Linked DNA regions of Homo sapiens. The protein of the gene in region 1 interacts with the protein of each later gene in a pairwise test. Each region holds a gene or a part of one and is shown on either strand. Other genes may lie near its edges.

Region 1 (3,603 bases):
TAGACAAATAACAACCCTAAACAGCCCATATCTTTAAATCAATGTATATTTTCTAATAAGGGAGTTGTCAAAACAAAATTTCTAATTTTTCAAATTGCTTTTAATGTGACTAAAACATGAAACTGTTTATAGTTTATTGGTCTCACTGTTTAAAGTAAAGGGTCTGGCTAAAGGTTTTAATAAACAAAATTATATAACCTCAACTCCAACCATCTCCATCTCATTCATCTCTCTCTTTCTCTCTCTCTCTCTCACACACACACACACACACACATACACACACACATACACACACCACATCGCTGCAATCAAAGAAAAATAGAGTATACTAAAACTGGCTTGGCAAACTTCTAATTAACGATCAAAACTCCTTGGAGCTAAGGTGCCATTTTCCCAATAGGCTGCTATTTTTAAAATATTTTTCTTTGAAAACAACAGCATGATTAATCTCACCATTTCCACTTAAATTACTTATATGAAAACAGCAGTGCACTATGGGCAATTATTAAAAACACTTTATTATGTATAATTTGTACATGCTTCAATTTGTGTCACTTAGGGTGATTTATTTTCCAGGTTGTAATGACATCTACCGAGATTAGCTAGATCTAATTTTCATTCTGCCATGCCACATACAAAAATACAATTTTCAAACAAAGCTTCCCTTCTTTACACAAAGGTACACAAGAGTTTGTCAGACAAATAAAATAAGAATACTTCACACACGTATCAACACCATACAAGGCATTATTCTTCACACAGTAACATCTAATGTGTTCTTTTATTTTTGAAACAGCAGGAAAAGAGCCCTTTCCCTTCAGAGGAAAATAAAAACTTTATCTGTTGCTTAAGCCAAACTCCAGGGAGGAAGGTGTGGTCCTCTGGGGAAAGTAGAGGGATGGGGATGTATGGAGGAGAATGGACGCCCCTTCATAAGCACTTCAGGAGGAAGGAATTGCAGGAGGTTCCTCGGGGACAGTCACACAGCTTCCCGATCCTTGCCCCTTTCCTCACTGCACACTGCTCACCGGCGTCACACTGAAACAACAAAATGTGTGGTCATCGAGTATGAACAAACCCAGGTTCCCAACAGGCAAGTCTCACAGTCAACGCAATTTCTGTCTCTTGAAAGGGGCAATTGGACCCCATCACCATCACAAGAGGTCTACGTACAGTCAGATCTGAAACAGGGAGCCTTGTGCTTATAACCTCAGTGAGAGTACATTTTTTAAAGAAACTTACATTATTAGTTTTATCCTAGTTTCTTCCACCTTTAAGTGGCGAGGGTTGGGGGGCGTGGGAAGGGGAGCATCACATTTCCTGGCTCCTTTTCTTGCCCTCTCAGAGGGGAAAAAAATCAGACCTTTTTCCTGAGCAACAAACAATAGACTTACACTTTCTTACAACCCCTGTTCCTGCTTTCCCATTTCCTCACCCGGGAAGGAAGAAGGAGCCCACAGAATCCTGCAAGCCCATTACCTAAGTTATTTAGCCACATCCTACGGAGAAGACTGTGTGTACGATTCAAGGCGGTGTACTTTCTCTTGGAAAAACACGGGAAGGGAGTGACCACAAACCTTACCATGGGGACTTGGCCATACTTCTTCTCATAGATGGGAACACGTTTACTCTTGAGCTTCTTCAAGACTTCTTGCAGCGCTTCGATCTGCAACACACCGCTTCGGAGCCTGAAGTTGCCGCCTTGGCTGCGAGCCCAGCCCAGGTGCGCACTTCCAGCCCTAGTTATAAGGAGCCCCGGACCCACACGCACTCTGCGGTGGGACTCCGCGGACACAGGGAATGGTCGAGGGGTGGAAACTTAGCGGACGCTGTCCCAGGTACTGACCGCGGGTCTCTGAGCCGCTGGGGTCCCTGTTGCTCAGAGGGGCCGGGATGAGGGATTCGCTCAACAGACTGCCAGGAGCCCGTGAGCTCGAGACGCTCTTCGGATGGCAGTGGGTGCCTGGGCGTTGCGCTCAGCTCCCCGCGCCCTGACTCTGGGAATAGGAGTGGGGGTGGGGGGAGGAGGGAGGCGTGCAAGAGAAGAGACAAGGCGACAGCTCAAGGGGGTCGAGAGCGAGGGGAATACCGACCAGCTCCTTCTCGTGGGAGGCATCATCCACGGCAGAGTAGATGTCCAGGGCTCGGGGCTGGAGCTCGGCGTCCTCCTGGGCACGGGTACCCAACAGAGGTAGCATCAGCAGCAGGGCGGCGCCCAGGAGGGGCAGCAGCCTCACGCGGGAGCTCTCCATCGTTCTGAAACTCGTCGTTGCTGGGGCACCACGCGCTCCCACCTTTTATAGTGAGCCCGAGCCCCCGTGCAGGAAAGAGGGAGGAGGCGAAGAAGGAAGGGGGTGTGGAGGAGGGCCCGGGTCAACCGTCTGTAGGCAGCGCTCCGCCGGCGCTTGACGTCAATGCCCGCCGGGTTCCAGGCGCCTGGGAACGAGGCTCTGCGCACAGATGGGCTAGAGCGCAGAGAACAGGACCCTGCGCCCCCAAAGGCTGTCAGTCTCACGGCAAGGGATGCTCCCCGAGGGGCCTGAGCTGAAGCCGAGGGGCTAGAGGTGAGGGACGGGAAGCGGGAGGGGCCTAGGAAATGGAAAATGCCTTCGGGTCAATGCACAGGCAGGAGAGTCGTTTCCCAACACCTAGCAGTGGTGACAGCTGCAACATCCACCTCGCCAGCCCTGCCTTGCCTCGCACCCCAACCCCAAGTGTGGCGGTGAGAAGGGGGTGTTGCCTCCAGACAGCCACATTTGCTGAGCACCTTACTCTGTGGGGTAGGGGAAGCAAACATACTATACAAAAGAAAGAGAAATAGTGGCCCTCCACGTGATGGGTTCTATGATGGAATCTGTGTGACAATAGTTAAAAGAAGAGAGGGAAAACAGACAAACCCGGATTCAGCAGTGGTGTTGGAAGTGCAGAGAGCCAGGCTCTGGTTCCCATCCTGGCTACACCACGTAAAAGTTGTATGACTTTGAACAAAATGAAGAACCTCTCCAAGCCTCAGCTTTCTCTTTTGTAGATCTAGGATTAAAAAGATATACCTCACAAAGTCATCAGTAGGATGAAATGAGAGATTAAGTATGTCAAACTCCTGGTTCTTAGCTAAGCTTCCCTGTCCCTCCTTTTTGAACTTTGAGGCTGCCCAGGCAAATTTAACCATCCCCAGAACCTCCCCCCACCCACCACCAACCCTTGGTATCCAAGAAGCCTGTCTAGAAAGAGAGTAAAAGAGTGAAAAGAAAGACAGCTCCATGATTATGAAAATATCTCCAGAGATCAGAAGTCAATGGTGAACCAGCTCCCCAACAACTTGGGAGAACAATGTGGCTTTTTTAAAAGTTGAGATCCTTACAGCCTGAATGCACAGGAAAATTCCTGTAGGAAAAGCAATGCTTTCCCGCTTAGACCTGCTTGCTCACCTGGCTTCCTTCACCACACCATCTTTCCCTCAACTGTTCCTAAATTCATCCACTCTTCTCCATCCCCATTACTACAACCCAGTCCTAGACAGCTGCCCCAGTCAACTTAATGTCTACCACTTAATCCCCACCCTATCTTCTCTTGCCTTCCTCTACTCCATAGTTCACCACCAAC
Region 2 (3,500 bases), on another chromosome or scaffold:
ACTATGGGGCCAGGCGTGGTGGCTCACACCTGTAATCTCAGCACTTTGGGAAACAGATGGGAGGATTGCTTGAGCCCAGGAGTTCGAGTCCAGCCTGGGTAACATGGTGAGATTCTGTCTCTCTGAAAACAAAAATAAAAATAAATTAGCCAGATGTGGTAGTATGTACTACTTAGGAGGCTAAGGTGAGGGAATTGCTTGAGCCCAGGAGGTTGAGGCTGCAGTGAGCTGTGTTTGCACCACTGCACTCCAGTCTGGGTGACAGAGTGACACCCTGTCTCAAAAACAAAACAAAAACCCCAAACCCGTGCAATACTATGGAGCAGGCATTCACAGTGCAATTTTCGGTTGAGGAATCCGAGGCTCAGAGTAGTTAAGAATCTTGTGCAAGAAAGAAATTTATAACTGTAGGCCAGGTACAGTGGTGTATGACTGTAATCCCAGCAATTTGGGAGGCTGAGGCAGGTGTATCACTTGAGCTCAGGAATTTGAGACCAGCTGGGCAAGATGGTGAAACCCTGTCTCTACAAAAAATTACAAAAATTAGCCGGAGGTGGTAGTGCTTGTCTGTAGTTTCAGCTACCCAGGAGGCTGAAGCAGGAGGATTGCTTGAACCCGGGAAGTTGAGGCTGTGGTGAGCCATGATCAGCCTCGGTGACAGAGTGAGAACCTGTCTCAAACCGAAAAAAAAAAGTTGTTCTTCAAAAAAGATCACTATAATTGACAACTGTTAATTAGATTGACTAAGAAAGAAAGAAGATTCAAATTACTAAAGTCAGAAATGAAAGTAAAACATTACTACTAATTCTGCAGAAATAATAAGGATTATAAGAGTACTATGAGTAATTGAATGCCAACAAATTGGATAACCTGGATGAAATGAACAAATTCCTAGAAACACAAAACCTGCCATGATAGAATCATGAATAAATAGAAAATCTGAATAGACCTATAACCAGTAATGAAAATGAGTCGATAAAAGCATTTGACAAAATTCAACATTCTTTCATGCTAAAAAACACTGAAACTAGGAATAGAAGGAAATTCTCAACATAATAAATGCTACATGTGAAAACCCCCAGCTACCATCATAGTCAATGGTGAAAGATTGAAAACTTTTCCTTTAAGATCAAGAACAAGACAAGGATGCCTGCTTTTGCCATTTCTATTCAATGTAGTATTGGAAGACCTAGACAGAACAATTAGGCAAGAAAAAAAAAGCATCTAGATTGGAAAGAAGTAAAATTATACCTGTTTGCAGAATACACTAACTTATATATAGAAAACCCTAGAGATTCCACAAAAAAACTGTTAGAATAATAAATTTAGCAAAGTGGCAGGATACAAAATCCACATGCAAAAATCAGTTGTATTTTTGTATACTAATAACAATTCAAAGGAAAATTAAGAAAAAAATTCTATTTATAAGAGCTTTAAAAATACTTAGAAATAAACTTAACCAAAGAGGTGAAAGATTTGTACCCTGAAAATACAAAACATTGCCAAAAGAAATTAAATAAGACATAAATTGAAAAGACACCCCATTTTCATGGATTAGAAGACTTAATATTGTTAAGATGACAGTACTACCCAAAGTGATCTACAGATTCAGTGCAATCTCTATCAAAATTCCAGTAATATTTTTTGCAGAAATAGAAAAATTCATTCTAAAATTTATATAGACTCTGAAGGGACCATGGATAGCCAAAGCAATCTTGAAAAAGAACAAAGTTGAAGGGCTCACACTTCCTGGTTTCAAAATTTTTTACAAAGCTATGGTAATCATCACACCTGTAATCTTAGCACTTTGGGAGGTGGAGGCGGGTGGATTGCTTGAGCTCAGGAGTTTGAGACCAGCCTTGGCAACATGGTGAAACGCCATCTCTACAAAGAAAAGCAAAAAAACAAAACAAAACAAAAAAACCCAAACAACAACAATAAAACAAACAAACAAAATCCAAAAGCTACAGTAATCAAAACAGTATGGTACTGGCAAAAAGAAATAGAAACCAGTGGAATAAAATATAGAGCCCAGAAAGAAATGTTTGCATACATAGCCAAATGTTTTTTGACAAGGGTGCCAAGATCATTCAGTGGGGAAAGGATAGTCTTTTCAACAAATGGCATTGAAGAAACTGGATATCCATGCAAAAGAATGAAATTGAACCTTTATGTAACACCATATATAAAAATTAATTCAAAATGCATAAAAGACCTAAATGTAAGAGCTAAAACTATAAAGCTCTTGGAAGATAGAGTGAAAACTTTGGAACATTGAATTTGGCAATGATTTCTTGGCTATGACACTAAAAGCATAGGCAACGAAAGAAGAAGTAGAGAAATTGGACTTAATGAAAATTAAAAGCTTTTGTGTATCAAAGCACATTATCACAAAAGTGAAAAGACTTCTTATAGAATGGGAGAAAATATTTGAGAATCATATATCTGATAAGGGATTAATATCCAAAATATATAAAGAACTACTGCAACTCAACCAAAAATCCCCAAACAACCTAATTAAAACATGGGCAAAGGACTTGAATAAACATTTCTCCAAAGAAGATAAATGGCAAATAAGCACATGAAAAGATGCTAAATATTGCTAATCATTAGGGAAGTGCAAATCAAAACTCCAATGATATACCACCTTATAACCATTAGGATGGCCATTATAAAAAACAAAACAAAACCAGAAAGCAACAAATGTTTTTGAAGATGTAGAGAAATTGGAACTCTAGTGCATTGCTGGTGGGAATGTGAAATGGTATAGCCACTGTGGAAAATGGTATGATGGTTCTTCAAAATTAAACAGGATTACCATTTGATCCAGCAATTCCACTTCTGAGTATCTATTTAAAAGAACTGAAAGCAGGGATTTGAACAGATATTTGTATACCCATGTTTGTAATAGCATTATTCATAATAGCCAAAAGGTGGAAGCAACCTAACTGTCCATAGATGGATGAGTGGATAAGCAAAATGTGATGTATCTATCTACACAGCATAATATTATTCAGTCTCCAAAAGGAATGAAATTCTGATACATTCTACAACATAGATGGAGCTTGAAGACATTGTGCTAAATGAAGTAAGCCAGACACAAAAGGACAAATATTGCATGCTTCCATCTGTATGAGAGGTACTTAGAATAGTTAAATACGGGGTGGGCAGAGTGGCTCATTCCTGTAATCCCAGCACTTTGGGAGGCCGAGGCTGAGACCAGGAGATTGAGACCAGCCTGGGCAACACAGTGAAACCCCAACTCTACAAAAAAACTTAAAAACTTAGCCAGGCATGGTGGTGCAACCTGTAGTCCCAGCTACTCTGGAGGCTGAGGTGGCAGGATTGCTTGAACCCAGGGGATTGAGGCGGGAGTGAGCTTTGATCACACCACAGCACTCCAGCCTGGGTGACAGAGTGAGACCCTGTCTCAAAACAACAAAACAAACAAAAAAACCCAACCAACCAAAAAAAACCAACTAAGTATATGTATATTTGAT

What was found.
Region 2: the proteins of CARTPT (region 1) and CEACAM1 interact in binary tests that used the Homo sapiens proteins (3 or more experiments, as listed by UniProt).

What each region holds. Positions count from the first base shown.
Region 1 is NC_000005.10:71,717,943-71,721,545, reverse strand, and holds CARTPT (cocaine- and amphetamine-regulated transcript protein preproprotein), read right to left. Parts: upstream 2,272-3,603; 5' UTR 2,253-2,271; coding exon 2,094-2,252; intron 1,667-2,093; coding exon 1,583-1,666; intron 1,039-1,582; coding exon 931-1,038; 3' UTR 501-930; downstream 1-500. UniProt on the Homo sapiens protein: Satiety factor closely associated with the actions of leptin and neuropeptide Y; this anorectic peptide inhibits both normal and starvation-induced feeding and completely blocks the feeding response induced by neuropeptide Y and regulated by leptin in the hypothalamus.
Region 2 is NC_000019.10:42,514,982-42,518,481, forward strand, and holds part of CEACAM1 (cell adhesion molecule CEACAM1 isoform 1 precursor), read right to left. Parts: intron 123-3,500; coding exon of another isoform or gene 30-122; intron 1-29.